Homo sapiens: one gene and its partners. The protein of the gene in region 2 interacts with the protein of the main gene of each other region in a pairwise test. Each region holds a gene or a part of one and is shown on either strand. Other genes may lie near its edges. The genes, in order: PTPRJ, RASA1, MLH3, BMPR1A and DCC.

Region 1 (3,520 bases), on a different chromosome or scaffold from region 2:
ATCACACAGGAGGGAGCTGGCAATTCTCGGGTAGAAATAACCACCAACCAAAGTATTATCATTGGTGGCTTGTTCCCTGGAACCAAGTATTGCTTTGAAATAGTTCCAAAAGGACCAAATGGGACTGAAGGGGCATCTCGGACAGTTTGCAATAGAACTGGTAAGCAAATAGGCTTTTCTGTTAAACCATCATGTTTCTTAAAGGAAATCAGTATAATTAATAAACATAATGTTTCCAAATATTGTTTTTCTTTTAATTATCTAAGAAAAAACTTTAAAAATTTTCATAACACTAATGCTTATTTATTATATGAAATACAGACAAGTAAGTAGAAAAAACTTACATGGAAACCATCAAGCAGAGATAATCACTTTTGATGTATGACATTTTACAATTTTTAAACATATACATATAGATACACAAATATATGTGTGAGTATACATATATTTAATACATATATATTTAATATTTAATACACACACACACACACACACATATATATATATATATATATTTTTTTTTTTTTTTTTTTTTTTTTTTGAGACAGTCTTACCCTGTCACCCAGGCTGGAGTGCAGTGGCATGATCTTGGCTCACTGCAACCTCCATCTCCTGGGTTCAAGTGAAGCGATTCTTGTGCCTCAGCCTCCTGAGTAATTGGAATTACAGGTGTGCACCACCATGCCTGGCTAATTTTTATAGTTTTAGTAGAGACAGGGTTTCGCCATATTGGCCAGGCTGGTCTTGATCTCCTGATCTCAAATGATCTGCCCACCTCAGCCTCCCAAAGTGCTTGGATTACAGGTGTGCGCCACTGCACCCAGCCCACAAATATATATTTATTTCTTTCACAAACATTGAGGCCATCTGTACATGTGGTTTTGTAATCTGCCTTTTCCCCAACTTGCCAATTAATTATGAATATTCTTTCCTCTTAATAAAATATTTCTACAGGATGATTTGAACACCTGCCTGGAATTCCATCATCTGAAACAGAGTTGGCAGATAAGAATGGCCCCTATGCCAAATTTGGCTCATTGTCTGTTTTTGTAAATAAAGTTTTATTGGATCACAGCCATGTTCATTTGCTTATGTACTGTCTATGGCTACTTTGGTGCTAGAATTGAGTAGTGGCAGCAGAGAACGTGTGGCTTGTGAAGCCTGAGATATTTATTTTCTGGCCATTACAGAGAATGTTTGCTGACCTCTGGGCTAGATCAGTGGTTTTCAAATTGTGGTCCAGGGCTCTCTAGGGATCCCTAGGTTCTTTCAAGGGGTCTCCAAGGTAGTATTATCATAACAATACTAAAATGTTATTTGGCTTTTTCATTCTCATTCTCTTTTGGAGTTTTCCAACTTTGATCCGATATGGGATGACATTGTCTCTCAGGTCTAATGGAATATATGCTGTGGATTCTTACATTTTAAAAATTTCTTCATTTTAAATCCCTGATATAGTAAATATTAATAAATATAACCTATGTAAATACAAATTCTCTGAGAGCCTTAATAACTTTTAAGATGGTAAAGAAGTCCTGAGAGCAAAAAGTTTAAGAACCTCTGGTCAAGATGTGTTAGAAATTAACTACTGTGCTGTGTTGGGCAGGTGGACTGTTCACAGTCTTTCCTAAACAACACTGTGATGAGATACTTTGTTAGTTCTAGAAGGCTAATTGAAATTGATAAAATCATTTTATAGTCAGCTACGGTGGCCTGCACCCATCGTCCCAGCTACTTGAGAGGCTGCGGCAGGAGGATTGCTTGGCCCAACAGTTGCAGACTAGCACCAGCCTGGGAGACCCTGTCTCAAAAAAAAATTTTTTTTTATAGAAACAGTTTAAATTATTAAATTATTTCTAGGCCTACAGGAGAAACTTCTGGGAAATCCTAGAGAGTAATGTTCATTATTGTTGTTTTAAAATTTTGAAATAATTGTTTTTTGGAAAGGTTGAAAAACATACAGTCTTCCTTGATCTAAGATTCAAGATAGTTGAAATCTTTTATACAGAGGGTAGAATAAAGATATACCTAATGTAAATGATGAGTTAATGGGTGCAGCACACCAACATGGCACATGTATACATATGTAACAAACCTGCACGTTGTGCACATGTACCCTAGAACTTAAAGTATAATAAAAACATATATATATATATAAAAGAAATGGGACAGATTCCTTGAAACACACATGAAATGAGTTACGCTTTTGAGATTCTCCTTGAAGAAGCTTCTTCAACTGTGCTGGTTGGGTTAAGCACCGATAGTCACTCAGAGGATCTGCTTCTGAAATAAGGGATCTACTAAAATGCATCCCTCAGATGAAATGCAGTATTCCCTTTGCAAATCTGCATTTCAGACTGTTGACATGACGTCTTAACGTCAACATGTTTCTTCTGTCTTTTAAGGATGTGGATAATGGTAAGAGGATCACCACTGAGGGAGATGCATGATGTTGTGCTACTTGCTATTGCCCAGAACTTACTGTAACAATAATATAATATGCTGGGGGTCTGCGAAGTGCTGAGTGCTCTCATACTGCATTTTACATTTTTAACACAACTTCATGGAGCAGGTATTATTATCATTTCTGTCTTACAGAGTAAGAAATGGGGGCTCTGCAAACTTAAGTAACTGGCCCAGAGTGACAAGGTGGCAAACTGACCTGTGTCTGCTGTCTAAGACCAAGTGCTTAACCACCATGTAGATTGACACTTTGATGTGGTACAGCAGTAAAGTTTAGTATTAGTGAGGAGAGGGCATCTCTTTTACTATAGTTTATTGTGAATATTCTTTCCTCTTAATATCAGTATTTCTACAGGGTAATTTTAACACCTGCCTGGAATTGCATTGTCTCAAAGGACCCGTTTCATTCAATGGTCCCATTGAATGAAAGTCAAGAAGGCTTGCTATAAGATCTAAACTCTTAGGGGGGTTACCTTTCTATTATCAAATAACCTTTATTGTTATTGGAAAAAGTCAGCTTAACAGCATTAAAAGCAATTTCAAAAAAAGGAAACGAATACCATATGATCCAGTAATTCCAGTCCTATGTATATCTCCAAAAGAATTGAAAACAGGCCCCTGGACAGTTATTTGTACATCAGTGTTCATAGTAGTAGCATTGTTCACAGTAGCCAAAGGTGGACCCAAGATCCCATCAACAAATGAATGGATAGATAAAATGTGGTTCATCCATACAACAAAATACTATTCAGCCATAAGAAAGAAAGAAATTCTGATTTATGGTACAACATGGATGGATCTTGAGGACATTATGCTAAGTGAAGCCAGACACAGAAGGACAAATACTGGATGATTCCACTTACATGAGTACCTAGATTAGGCAACTTAATATTCTACAGAAATTAGAATAGAGGTTACCAGGGGCTGTTCAGAGGAGGGAGTGGGCATTATTGTTTAATGGCTACAGTTTATGCTGGGGATAATGACAGTGTTTTGGGTACAGGTAGTGGTGATAGTTACACAACATTGTGAATATTGATGATACCGAATTGTACAC
Region 2 (3,520 bases):
TCTGAGAAAGGTTTGTGATTCTGCCTAAGGCATTTGATATTTTTATTAGCCATTAAATAAGCCTCATTCAGAAAAGCTTTTAATCAGCTTTTTTTCCCCTCAAATAAATAGAATTGACTAAGCACTGTTTGCTTTTCAGTTGGCTAATTGGGAATAAATGGTAACAGACCTACCAGGAGGAGTTCCATAGAGAAAACTACTTAAAAACTCCCATTATACAAAGAAAAAAGATCAATACACACAGAGATACCGAAAAATAGACAACCTCGAAAACTATAACTACTTGTTTTCCTCTATTCATTTGCATTTGTCATTGCCAACATGCATTTATATTGATTTATTCCTTCTTTTAGTTAAGTCCATCAAAGTTAGAAAAAAATGAAGATGTGAACACTAATTTAACACACCTATTGAACATACTTTCAGAGCTTGTGGAGAAAATATTCATGGCTTCAGAAATACTTCCACCGTAAGTGGTGAAATTTTCATTTGACAAGAAATTGTGTATCTATGTCTTCAGAAATTTCTATTTCTAAAACGTGAAAGCTTTTCTGTTGTCCTAATATTATTATACTCTGAAAAAGTCATGGTTAATCTTTATGAGATGAATTGTATTTAAAGAAAATAGCTGTCTTAATAAAACCACCCATTATTTTCGTACAAGCCAATATGTCTGGTTTGTACTGTAGTAGCTTGGGGAGTGAATAGAGGTTTATAGTTTCAGATTTGAGATTGTAAAAGATATCTTGTCTATCCATTTAGTCTATACTTGATAGACTAATCACTCTGTTAATATGCTTGTCGGCCTCCAGTATTAGTGAACTCACTTGTTCAGGTAGAAGTTAACTTAAGTCTAAATCTTGCTCCCCAGAATTTGCAGCTGGTTGGTTCTCTATATCTGAAAGTAAATGTCAGGAAGTTGACTGAATAAATTGATGATAAACTTAGTGGATAAAGTTTTCCTTACCCCTTGCTAAATGCCTCATTACCTGTGGCAAAATACTTTTTTGGGTAAAAGGCCAGTTTTATTGAACTGTGGTATATTTGGGTAAATTAAGCTTTTGGCTGCTAGGAGATCAGTGTTTTCACTTGCTTTCTGTGTTGAGATGATTGTGTTATTTTGGCAGGACATTGAGATATATTTATGGGTGTTTACAGAAATCTGTTCAGCATAAGTGGCCTACAAATACCACCATGAGAACAAGAGTTGTTAGGTAAGGCTCATCAATTGATTTGTTAAATCACATACTAATAGGTGGATAATTGTGAAAAATTGAGGAATAACAATATACAATTCAATGCTTTTTTCTTTGGCTTTTATGTCAAAGCCCTGTTGCATATTTTCTAAGTCCAGATGGCTCCTAAACTGAAAGTTACTGTGAGATTTAGCTGCCGTTTGCATTTTCTAAAAACATGAACATTCATTTATAGTCAAGTATTGGGGATTTTTAAACCCTTACAAGATGAGGCTAAAAGTTATATAACAAAATCTGTAGCTAACTTCATATAGTATTCTTCATACATACACACACATTGATTGGCAGTGAGAGAGAAGGGCAGTAATTGACCGATTTAGATATTAATTGGTTTGTTACAATCTGTGACTCTGAGCTAATCAGAACCAGAACATGTAGTTCTGAAGCTGTGTTTCAGTCTGCTCATTGTACCATAATTAGGAAGAACTGCTTTGGCAAATCATGGAATTTGGGAGCTTATATAAAGGGACTTCATTATCATTATTCTATAGGAAGAACTGCTTTGGCAAATCATGGAATTTGGGAGCTTACGTAAGGTTACTTCATTATCATTATTCTAACTTATTTTTCCAATGAAGAAGCAGATCTGTCTGGAGAGGTTAAGTTGAACTAAGGTTTTATAGAAAGCTGGTGGCTAAGGCAGAACTAAAGGTAACTTTCTAAGACCCAATCTGATATCCTTGAGTCTTATTGTAGGCTTTTGCTTTTGTTAAGCATACTCCAACTAATACCCCAACTAATTCCAGGCAAATGGAAGTTTAATGCGAAAGCGTCATGGAATACAGCAGTTTTCTAATAATATAATTTGTTATTTAGAATATACACTGTCATGTCATGCTATATGTAAAATAATTAGGCAACCATTAACACCATTATTACACAGTTTGTTTTGAAAATGTGTTAATCCTGCCTCCAACCTAAATTTTGTCAAGGGGCTTCTATTTCTTTTTTTGGGGGGCAGGTAATATTTCTCTTGGTTATGATATGACATAATATTTAAGAACTACAGATTCTGTTTTTCTTGGCATTAGTGGTGATTGGGAGGAATAGAAAAGAATTACAAGCATAATATTCCAGCACAGTTACGTGTGAGATGTAAATTAAAACTGTTCTATAAATTTGTAAGTTTCAAACAAGTATAACTGTTAAGCAAACACAGCAGGAAATTGTAAACTGTTTCGTGCAAGAGGGTGTTTTAGGGCATTTTTGCCAAGGTTAGGTTTCAGGCTCATAGACCTACTATGTATAATTATCACAATATTTTCAAGTAAAGTTTACAAGATTCTTTAAATTTGGGAAGTCCAAAATTAAAGACTTAATTGTTATTTTTTTGAGACAGGGTCTTGCTCTGTTGCCCATGCTGGAGTGCAGTGGTGTGATTTCGGCTTACTGCAACCCCCGCCTCCCAGGTTCAAGTGAGATTCTTGTGCTTCATCCACCCAAGTAGCTGGATTACAGGCATGCACCACCATACCTGGCTATTTTTGTATTTTTAGTAGAGATGGGGTTAGACCATGTTGGCCAGGCTGGTCTTGAACTCCTGGCCTCAGGTGGTACACCCACCTCGGCCTCCCAAAGTGTTGGATTACAGGCATGAGCCACCATGCCCAGCCAATATATTAGAATTTCTATAAATGCTGTTTGAGAAGTAACATCTTTACTTTCTAAGAGTCCAAAAATTAGCAAACAGGTACATGTTCAAAGGTAAATGCTAAGAAATTGGGTAATCCACTCTAACAGAGAACAGAGATTGTATCTATTAATCTATAGAAGGAATTGCGTAACTCATTATTTTGGGAATAATGCTTGTCTTTACATGGATTATGTCTATCAATCTGTAGAAGGAATTGCATAATTCATTATTTTAGGAATAATGCTTGTCTTTACATGGGGCAAGTAAGAGGTTAATTATTAGTGTGGATTCTTCTTAAAAGGAAATTAGAAATTATCTACATGACAACATATCCTCCCTACCAGTGACTAAAGGAGGCAGAATAGGAGTATCTATGCAAGCTTTTAACACTGACATTGTCCCAAAGTAAAATTAGCAGATAAAATCATATATGACAGCTGTTAGTATAATTTTTGCTTTTGCTATTGTTTTATAATTTGACAACTTTTTAAAACTTTAGAATTCCTAATGTCTTGTCTTAAAAGTTTTTCAGGCTGGGCATGGTGGCTCAAGCCTGTAATCTCAACATGTTTAGACCAAGACAGGAGGATTGCTTGAGGCCAGGAATTTGAAATTGTCCTGGGCACCGTAG
Region 3 (3,520 bases), on a different chromosome or scaffold from region 2:
GCAGTTCCTCAATGAAGAAAACACACTTAGAAACAAGACTTAGACACAGATTGATTCCCAATGGAAAAGAGAAAAACAATAAAGGTTACTGTAATTCAAAAAGGAAATTTGATAATAAAAAATCCCAAACACCCACACATAAGTGTGAGAAAAACAATACGGTTGTTAAGCCCTGTGGCAGCTTTTGAAAAACTATTAAGTAGTATTTGGAACCAGTAGTGAAGTGCAAATGAAGTAGCACTCTTTTTTTTTTTAACATTTGAGGTTATCTCTTTAGGTGTTACCACAAAAATCTGGAAGATCTGGGCCTTGAATTTGTATTTCCAGACACTAGTGATTCTCTGGTCCTTGTGGGAAAAGTACCACTATGTTTTGTGGAAAGAGAAGCCAATGAACTTCGGAGAGGAAGATCTACTGTGACCAAGAGTATTGTGGAGGTAAGACACAGCTGCAGATGTTAAGGAAATTGCTGAGTGATGGTAACCTCATATTTTGTCTGTAGATTCTCTGAATTCATCTTTTCTTCAACAAGTATTCATGGTATTTACCTGCGGTGTGCCAGGAGCTAGAAATTCAGAGATGAGTTAGCTCAAAATAAGGAAGAAGGGCATTTAAAGAATTATAGTCAGTGAACTTTGGCTAGTAGAGGTATGTGTTTTGCTTTCTTCCCAGTGATAAAGGTAATGAAAACTAAGAGTCTAGAATGCACCAAGATAGTTTTTCAGAAGTGTTATGGAAACACAGAATGACTTGTGTGCCTGGGGAGGTGAAGTCAATGAAAATGTCACAGAAAAGCTGTTTTCTTAAGAAAAGTTTTTACTTTTGAGAGACCAGGTCTCACTCTGTTGCCCAAGCTGGAGTGCAGTGGTGCAATCATAGCTCACTGTAGCCTTGATCTCCTGGGCACAAGCAATCTTCCTGCCTCAGCCTCCCAAGTAACTCGGACTACAGACACGCACCACCATGCCTGGCTAATTTTTTCCTTTTTTTTTTTTGTAGAGATGGGGGCCTCACTATGTTGCCCAGGCTGGTCCTGAACTTCTGGCCTCAAGCAATCCCCTTGCATTGGCTTCCCAAACCCCCGGCACTACAGGCATGAGCCACTGCACACAGCCAGAAAAGTCTTACAGAATAGTGGGAAACTAGGCTGGGCAAGGTGGCTCACACCTGTAATGCCAGCACTTTGGGAGGCCGTGGTGGGTGGTTCACCTGAGGTCGGGAGTTCGAGACCAGCCTGACAAGCATGGAAAAACCCCATCTCTACTAAAAATAGAAAATTAGCCGGGCGTGGTGGTGCATGCCTATAATCCCAGCTACTCAGGAGGCTGAGGCAGGAGAATGGCTTGAACCTGGGAGGCGGAGGTTGCATTGAGCCAAGATTGCACCATTGTACTCCAGCCTGGGCAACAAGAGTGAAACTCTGTCTCAAAAAAAAAAAGAAAAAAAGAATAGTGGGAAAGTGCTGAGTACAGAAGAGGGGAGAAGGGCATTCTAGACAGAGGAATACATATCAGAGACTTGAGATACATCCTATGTTTAGGGAACTATCAATAGATATGGCTCAAATTAAGATCTACAGTTGATCCTTGGATAACTTGGGTCTGAACTGCGCAGGTACACTTAAATGCAGATTTTCTTTCACCTCTGCCATTCCTGAGACAGCAAGACCAACCTTTCCTCTTCTTCCTCCTCCTTAGCCTATTCAATGTGAAAATGATGAGGGTGAAGACCTTTATGATGATTCATTTCCACTTAATGAATAATAAATATATTTTCTGTTTCTTATGATTTTCTTAACATTTTCTTTTTCTTTCTTTCTTTCTTTCTTTCTTTTTTTTTTTTTTTTGCGATGCCCAGGCTGGAGTGCAATGGCACAATCTCAGCTCACTGCAACCTCCACCTCCCGGGTTAAAGCGATTCTCCTACCTCAGCCTCCCAAGTAGCTGGGATTACAGGCGCACACCACCATGCCCCGGCTAATTTTTGTATTTTTAGTAGAGATGGGGTCTCACCATGTTGGCCAAGCTGGTATTGAACTCCTGACCTCAAATGATCCACCTGCCTTGGCCTCCCAAAGTGCTGGGATTACAGGCATGAGCCACTACGCCTGGCCAACATTTTCTTTTCTCTAGCTTACTTAATTGTAAGAATACAGTGTGTAATATATACAACACACAAAATATGTGTTAATCAACTGTTTATATTATTGGTAATGCTTCTGATCAACGTTAGGCTATTGGTAGTTAAGATTTGGGGAAATCAGGCCAGGTGCAGTGGCTCACGCCTGTAATCCCAGCATTTTGGGAGGCCAAGGCGGGCGGATCATTTGAGGTCTGGAGTTCAAGACCAGCCTGGCCAACATGATGAGACCCCGTCTCTACTAAAAATTAAAAAATTAGCCAGGCATGATGGTATGTGCCTGTAATCCCAGCTACTTGGGAGGCTGAGGCATGAGAATTGCTTGAACCCGGAAGGTGGAGGTTGCAGTGATCCAAGATCACTGCACTGCACTCCAGCCTGAGTGACACAGTAAGACTCCGTCTCAAAAAAAAAAAAAAAAAAATTGGGGGGAAATCAGAAGTTATACTTGGATCTTTGACTGGATGGGAGTTGGCTAGATGGGTTGTCAAGGTCAAATCATAAAATAATTTAGCATATTCTACTAAGTAGTTTGCATTTTATCCTATAGGCAGCCAGTGAAAACTTTTAAGCAGGAGAGTAAGGTCCATTTTAGATTGCATTCCAAATATGATTACTTTACATATATGTTTTGGTAAAGGTTTGGAAAGCTACTGCTGGGCTGTGGCATTGGAGGTATTAGAGAGAACTATTACTTTTTATTTTGATTACTTATATGTTTCTTTTTTTATAGCAAATATCATTTATTTTGTCTTTATTGTCTTTTTCCTCTCCTTTCCTGTTTTCTATTATAGTTTTCTGTATTTCTCTTTTTTTTTTTGCTCTACTCGTTTAGAAGTTATATATTCCATTTATATCCTTTTAGAGATTAGCCTTAACTTTTAGCATGCATACTTATCAAAGTTTAAAAGTAATTCACTTCTCTATCCTCTTCCTAACTGTACCAAAATCTTACAAACTGTTCATCTCCCATCACCCTCCTCCCATCTTCCATGTTGCTGTCTAGTACTTTAATTCCACCTTGTTTTTAATTCCCTGGTGGTCATTTATTTTATAGTCAATCTTTATTTAGATTAAAAAAAGTGTTCACCAGAGTCTTTGTTCACCATTGCCTCTTGCATCCTACTTATTCTGTGTTCTTTTGGGTTTTTTTTTTTTTTTTTTTTTTTTTTTTTTACTGAAGTAAATCTCTTACAAGATCTTTTATCCACAAACAGATCTTGAGACAAAAAATACAAAAATATAAAAATAAATAGAAGTTATTTTAGTAAGAGTCCGTGGGCCAGGCATGGTGGCTCATGCCTGTAATCCCAGCACTTTGGGAGGCCAAGGCGGGCAGATCACCTGAGGTCAGGAGTTTTGAGACCAGCCTGGCCAACGT
Region 4 (3,520 bases), on a different chromosome or scaffold from region 2:
AGGAAGTAATTACTAGAACAGTTTTTTTAGTTCCGTTCTGCTTCCAGCCTGAAAGATTTAGTACCAAATATGACAGTATCTGTCACTGCAGGCTGCTAGACTCTAGTGTAAGAACATAGTTCTATTTCTGTGAGCTAACTGCTGCCCTTCTATAACCTTCAGTTTCTGCCAGCATCGTCTGCATTCAAACCAATGACCTCGAGGTGAAAATCTCCAGATAACATGATTGGTCCCCATGCTCTCATGATTTCCTTACTTAAGCAATTAAAGGCCAAAGCAAGATGCTTAGTAACTCCTTTTCCACATAGAGGCACAAATAAAGGAAAGCTGGTCACAAGTTTTGAACCAAAGAGTTAAAAGAAGAATCATAACTTGTCTCTATTTAATGATTGGAAACTCTCACAGACTTCTGTGAAGTCTCTCCCCCTTTTGTACCTTTCTTACAAGTGATGACTATATACTTTTACCTGGCAGGGGAGAGACCACGGTCACGAAGGTGGTTTTCCCAGGGCGAGGCTTATTCATTGCACTCCAGATGTGCTGACCCCTGCGATTTCCCCAAATGTGGGAAACTCAACTGCATAATTGTGGTGGTGGGGGACTGCGTTCATGCTTTTCCCTGGTTAAATTAAAAAATTTTTAAGTTATTTTAAAAATATAAAAAACAAGATTTGACTGTATTCTGCCTTGCGCCACTCTTGTTTGTCTTTCACTAGTGCAAAAATTGTGATATAGCTGTCTTCATGTACCCCGCAATACCTGGTGCAGTAATTCTGTGCATAATAATGTATGTCTGTTTGTTGTATGAATGAAATTTATATTTCTAAAGAAACATGCTAGCTACAATTATTGTGATAAGAAAGCTTAACAACTTTTTCTCATTGAAAATTGTCACGAAACAATGAGCTTTTCAGAAATGATTTACTTACAAATTCCATATTTGAATGCAGGACAGAATCTGGATAGTATGCTTCATGGCACTGGGATGAAATCAGACTCCGACCAGAAAAAGTCAGAAAATGGAGTAACCTTAGCACCAGAGGATACCTTGCCTTTTTTAAAGTGCTATTGCTCAGGGCACTGTCCAGATGATGCTATTAATAACACATGCATGTAAGTATTTTATGCAGCCCTTCTTAAGAGTTAGGAGAATAGAGTTGCATTTAGTGCTATTTTAAGAATTATTAAACTTGTCTGCGGTTTTTTTTTCATTCATATATAGTATCTTTCCAGAAAGCCAAAAAGCCTTTTGTTTTGTATATTAGAACATTATTCCATTAAATGATTGATAGGTGAGTTACTATATTAGAATTATGTTATAATGCAGCTTTTAAAATAAGATCAAAGGGATCTAGTATTTAACATCTGAGTTTTTAATGATCTTTTAATCTTAAATTTATTGATGCTCATTTTAGAAAACTTAGAGGTTACCAAAAAAGAAATCAGAAAACTCACTGACAACCTCCTACTTCTTTTTAATTTAAAAAAAAATTTTTTTTTTAACTATAGACAGGATCTTGCTATGTTGCCCAGGCTGGTCTCAAACTCCTGGGCTCAAGCAGTCCTTCCACCTCAGCCTCCCAAAGTGCTGGGATTACTAGGGTGAGCTGCCACACCTGGCCTCCTACTTCTTAATTAGTTGAAATATTTTGCAGATATATATAAATCATATTGTGTTAATTAATTTTATGCTTTTTTCTTACCTGTGAATTTACCAATCCAAATCTGATTTATAAAATGATTTTAATTTTTCTAGTGTATTTCGTGTTAGCTGCACAACATGTTTATATATGATCATGTAATTCTAGTCCATATTTGTTGGAAACATTGACATATTGACTTAATAAGACCAAAAAAAATTGCCTGAACAACTCAACCTCATCAGTCAATTAATTGTCTCCTTGTTATAGAGGCAATAATGAATGTCATGTTTTATACTTTTAATAATTGTATGTTCCCTGAATGGACCAGATAGAAAGCATGAAACTTTACACGTAAACTCTTGAACCTGCATGACGGTCATCGTGTCTTAGGTTTGCTGCTTGTCCCCTGGTGGTGGTGGGCTCTGCGTGGCTGACTGTGACTAGTTGTTCATTTTTACCTTGGTGAGAGTTTGCCAGCAGGGAACTGCTCTCTGCTATGTCACCAAATAATGTTTTGCTAAACTTCTTGTCTGTAGTACCTGCCTGATGTAATGGGCTGTCTGTTAGTAGCTTAGTAACCCAGAGTAAAACTGAATCATCCATTTTAACAGAATTCTGCCCCACACTTAACATTTTCTCCTAACAGAAAACCAAGAATTCTGCAAAATTCTTCTAAGTAGAAGCAGCACAATTCCTGATATTAACAATAAATAGGAGTACAGAAAAAGCTTTTAGAAATTTCTCCCATACCTGTTAAAGTCTATATGAATATATTAAGGGGAAACTCCAGGATGCTAACACTAAAATAAGAATTTCATTATATATGTATGTAAATTTATTGAAAATTTATTCAAAAGTCCTCTCCCTGTTTTCCCATCATATTCAGTAAAAGGTGCCTTTTAGTCCCCTTTTTTTTGGTCATTAAGCCTATTTGTATGTTTCAGAGAAAAGTTTGTTTTTATCTATTATCATATACAATATGGAAGTACTGAAAAAATGGGTAAAAAGAGACAAAGTTATTTTAAAGTATGTTTTCAAAACATGACATAAAATTTTATAAATCAGCTTTCTGTGATCACATGACTGATTAGCAAAGAGAAGTCACATAACTCCTATGTGGAGGACTTGTTTAATTGAAATCCTTTTCTTCTTGACAAAGGGTTGTCACTGGCCTTTTAGATCTTGGCTCAGACATAACTTTCATTTGTCTTAAAACCTCTGGCGTTGCCAATAAATCACGTGTGAATGCAATTCTAAGTCACAAAACAAAGTATTAAAGGCCATCTGTACCTGTTCACATTCAGACTCAAATTTCGTTAGTACTTTCTATGTGAATTTATGTTTTGTTTTGTTTTGTTTTTTTCTGTTTTAGAACTAATGGACATTGCTTTGCCATCATAGAAGAAGATGACCAGGGAGAAACCACATTAGCTTCAGGGTGTATGAAATATGAAGGATCTGATTTTCAGTGCAAAGTAAGATATAATTTGGGACCCATGAGACAAAGAAGGGAGGGGCCATATGAAAGCATCGATTTCCCCCAGGAGAAACATGCCTGGTGTACACATCGCTGTATGTTCACATCAGTAAATATATTGGAGGAATACCTACTGTCTAGATTCTGTCCTGTATTCATATGTAGAATTTATAACTAAATCATTTCTGAAAAGCTAATTGTTTGATTACAATTTCCTTTTTTATTTCCATAGACAGCACCTGGCTCTGTTGCCCAGGCTGGAGTGCAGTGCTGCGATCTCCGCTCACTGCAACCTCAAGCCAGCCTCCTGCCTCAGCCTTCTGAATAGCTGAGACTACAGGTGCATGCCACTATACCTGGCTAATTTTTGTATTTTTTGTAGAGACAAGGTTTTACCATG
Region 5 (3,520 bases), on a different chromosome or scaffold from region 2:
TTGCTCATTAATCTGAGTATCACTTCTTTCTCTTAGTAATAATTTCCCCTGTTTAGGAACATGGCAGGAAACTTACAACGAGAAAGCATAGTTCACTCTATAAAAGGACCAGTAGGAGGTGCCCTTAATAAGGCCAAGTGTCTAGTTTACTGGCAGAGAAATTCCCATTCAGCCGGGTGTTTTAAAGACTTTGTTGATTGGTAACAAAGGATTATGGAGACTAGCACAATAGCACTGGGCCCTTTCCCACTTTCTAGGTAAAGTCTGAAGCTGCTGTAGATTTGTATGAAACTGTGATGATTTAACAAAGGACAGCCCTGAAAAGTGTCAGTAGAGAGTGAGGACTTGATGTTGGGGGAGGAGGATGGTGACTTTTTAGTTGGCTTCTGTAAGATGTCATCTTCTTATATATTTGACATGAGCCACAGGCACAGGAACCTTATAGAGTCTCAGGGGATCTCAGATAAGATAACAATTTTGGATGTTGGATGTTAATGAGTGAAAAATGAGGCATACATATTAATTAATTCTTCATACATGTTTGGGTTCCATTGCATTGAAAAAAATCTGTGAGTGTTTAATGTAGTCTGGATATGCTGAAATGAGGCTGGTCGCCCTCCCTAGGCGACCTCTTCTCATTCCCCCAACCAAAGCAGATCAGATGCCCCCATGTGGGTTTGCTTTTGAGTGGCGGGAGTATGGCAGAGCCTGAGGGCTCGGGGTAGGCTGGCAGTCCACTCCTCTGTGAGTGCCGCAGTATAAATCACCAGTACCTGTCAGTGTCCATTTCCCACACAGCAGCAGCTGCCCTCTGAGTTATAAAGCATGGGAAACGGCCACCACATGTGTTATATGTGAATATATTAGGCTTAGTGCCTTTGCTTTAATGCTCTTAAAAGCCAGGCTGGCTTGAGATGCTGATAGGCATTTTTTTCTGGGGAGAGATTTATAACTTCTCAGTGTGTATGACTTAAATTTATTCTCTGGCAAGTTAACCTCTTAGCAAACTTCCTTATTGTTTTCATTGAAGAGGAAGAGCCTTAATCCTACCTAAATTCCTGAATGAAGCTCTGCTGAAAGTTTCTGCTAGAGTACAGGATATTTGCAGGCTGTAGTATGGTTTCCTAAACCAATGGGAAGCTTGACAAGATATATGGGGAGGTGATTTTTTGGTGGGGAGGCGGGGATATTTTTACTTGTTTTTAGAGAGGGAAGTTGTGATACTGCATCTTCTAAAGGAATTCTAGCAACTCAGTTATCTCAAAAGCATCTTTAATGAGAGGAAATGTTTCTCGCTTCCAGTTTCATACATCTAACAGTCTGGGATTCTTCAAATGCATATAATATGCTCCTGGAATGTTTGCAGCTGCACGCAGTAGGGTCATCTAGCAGGATCACTGTCATTTGGAAATGAGCCCTGATTTAAATTTTGACTTGCAGACAAAACACTTATCTTTACCTGGTGCGGCATGTTTAAAAGCAGTGCTGAAGTTTCTGAACAGAATATTTCTTTCCATGGGAGACTGTGCCCTAAGATTACATTTTAAAGTAAGTGTTCTTACCATTTCTTTGGAGAATTTGCCATCCCAAACTTTGCATGTGAAACTTCTTCTTCATGATTCTACCAGTAAAGATAACTATTTAAAGAGAATGCAGTTGTTTCCGGGTATTTCTTTAAAATTAAAATTCAATGTCCACATCCACACACAAACAAGGAGGATTTCCACCCCCTCATACCTTCTCCTTCAAATAGCTGACTTTGGTGTGAATTATGATAGCTCTAATTACATAAGGGCACTTGCAATTTCCCTAGAGAATGAGTTCTTGCCTGATTACAGATCTTCCTACTTTCCATAGGAAGTTTCTGGCCCACACTACTATCAGAAACTTGCACCAAATTGGGAACACATTGCTCTGTTTTGGTATTTGCTACCCAGCTATACATTTTTGAAGGATTAATCTACCTCAGATGATAATCTCTTAGATGAACTATATACATAAATTTCAAGAAATCTTAGCTTTGCCTGAGGCCAAAGAATAATGTCACAAACCTGCTGAAATTACTTGATTAATTGATTGATTAACTAAGGATAAAAAGTCACTTGGTTCTGGAAAAGTACTGTACTCCCTAAAGAGTTCTAAAGAGGAATAGTAAATACTATGCACATTTACAATTCATAAAATGTAAACGTCAAGTCTTCTTCCCCCTCTTTTTCCATTCCTTCCTTATAATGCTCTGGAGGAAAATTTAAGAGTTTCATGAGTTGTCACAACAGTTATATCTTAAGGAATCATAGCTTGGAATCTCACTAACTCATGATTAATAGACACTCAATTAAATAGCAACACAATGTCCGGTGAATTTTTCGGCAGCCTGCTGTGGGCTGCTTGCTTGTTTTCAGCTCGTTTCTAAGGAATCAAAACTCTCATCTCTAAGAGGTGTGGCATCAATACTGCCTCCCTTGACGCAGCCCAAGAAAGCCTTTCTCACTCTGAAACCAAGGCTGTGACCCACAGGCACTGTGTTTAATATGCTGTGTTCCACTTTGCAAGGTCAGGGGGATTTGCCTTAAAAATAAATTTTTAAATGTTCATGCATGCTGCTTTTGGTGGAGAGTTAAACTGTACTCTAAAAGCAGCTAAATAGTGTTGTTATCTTAAGACATTCTAACTTGTGGCCTCTCAGCCAATATTATTGAAGTTCTAGAGCTCACAATCTTTAAGAGAGACAGGAGTGAGCTCTATAAGATAATAGGTTATGCCAACCTAGTTAAGCTACTTTTTTCCCCAAAATGGTGTTACCAGGTTGGAATAATAGAACGTTAACCTTTTTCAAAGTTACTACTTTTCAGAGGAAAAAACATTTCTTAATAATATCATAATATCAGTAGCATGGGACTGACCCAATGTATTTAAGATATTGTTCTTCAAAACAAGATATCAAGGAAAGCCAGTGTTAAACTTGTCAAGAAGAAAGGATGAACAATCCAGATTATTTTCCCTGCAGGCCAATAAAAAATGTGCAAGATAGAATTACATGTTGCATATGCCAAATAGGTAATAGCAAAAAATAAAATGTAAAGTATTATGCACCTTTATCATTGCAGGACTCAGGTAAATGAAACACAATTTAGTAACACACTTTTTCTTTCTCTCACTCTAGAATGTTAATTCCTTATCTTATATTTCTCTGGTTTAACTCCAAACTAAGATGGAGAAATACAGGTTGGCTGACTGATGATCAAAATTATTATAGTGCTCCAAAGTTATTTGACAAATTTTAGCCTGAGGTTTAACAACTAAATCCCTTTAATTCAACTATTAAGTGAAAGTGTTTTCTTTGGTAGTTTAGAAATACCTGAGCTTTGTCCCAATGGTGTGGTTTAGAAATACATAATAATGCATAAGATTGAATATGCCTTCTTTTTCAATATTGATGGGAATTTGCCAATGGTAATACCAGTGCATATTGCTCTTTTATTAATAGTTCCAAACAACCATATTATTCACAGCTTTCATT

The links.
Region 1: the proteins of RASA1 (region 2) and PTPRJ interact in a two-hybrid assay, tested with the Homo sapiens proteins (one large-scale study listed by BioGRID and IntAct).
Region 3: the proteins of RASA1 (region 2) and MLH3 interact in a two-hybrid assay, tested with the Homo sapiens proteins (one large-scale study listed by BioGRID and IntAct).
Region 4: the proteins of RASA1 (region 2) and BMPR1A interact in a two-hybrid assay, tested with the Homo sapiens proteins (one large-scale study listed by BioGRID and IntAct).
Region 5: the proteins of RASA1 (region 2) and DCC interact in a two-hybrid assay, tested with the Homo sapiens proteins (one large-scale study listed by BioGRID and IntAct).

Annotation. Positions count from the first base shown.
Region 1 is NC_000011.10:48,130,557-48,134,076, forward strand, and holds part of PTPRJ (receptor-type tyrosine-protein phosphatase eta isoform 1 precursor), read left to right. Parts: coding exon 1-160; intron 161-954; coding exon of another isoform or gene 955-959; exon of another isoform or gene 960-2,164; intron 2,165-3,520. UniProt on the Homo sapiens protein: Tyrosine phosphatase which dephosphorylates or contributes to the dephosphorylation of CTNND1, FLT3, PDGFRB, MET, KDR, LYN, SRC, MAPK1, MAPK3, EGFR, TJP1, OCLN, PIK3R1 and PIK3R2. Plays a role in cell adhesion, migration, proliferation and differentiation.
Region 2 is NC_000005.10:87,379,382-87,382,901, forward strand, and holds part of RASA1 (ras GTPase-activating protein 1), read left to right. Parts: intron 1-353; coding exon 354-469; intron 470-1,127; coding exon 1,128-1,214; intron 1,215-3,520. UniProt on the Homo sapiens protein: Inhibitory regulator of the Ras-cyclic AMP pathway. Stimulates the GTPase of normal but not oncogenic Ras p21; this stimulation may be further increased in the presence of NCK1.
Region 3 is NC_000014.9:75,027,460-75,030,979, reverse strand, and holds part of MLH3 (DNA mismatch repair protein Mlh3), read left to right. Parts: intron 1-264; coding exon of another isoform or gene 265-277; coding exon 278-437; exon of another isoform or gene 438-438; intron 439-3,520. UniProt on the Homo sapiens protein: Probably involved in the repair of mismatches in DNA.
Region 4 is NC_000010.11:86,889,112-86,892,631, forward strand, and holds part of BMPR1A (bone morphogenetic protein receptor type-1A isoform 3 precursor), read left to right. Parts: intron 1-950; coding exon 951-1,113; intron 1,114-3,015; coding exon 3,016-3,118; intron 3,119-3,520. UniProt on the Homo sapiens protein: On ligand binding, forms a receptor complex consisting of two type II and two type I transmembrane serine/threonine kinases.
Region 5 is NC_000018.10:52,343,178-52,346,697, forward strand, and holds part of DCC (netrin receptor DCC), read left to right. Parts: intron 1-3,520. UniProt on the Homo sapiens protein: Receptor for netrin required for axon guidance. Mediates axon attraction of neuronal growth cones in the developing nervous system upon ligand binding. Its association with UNC5 proteins may trigger signaling for axon repulsion.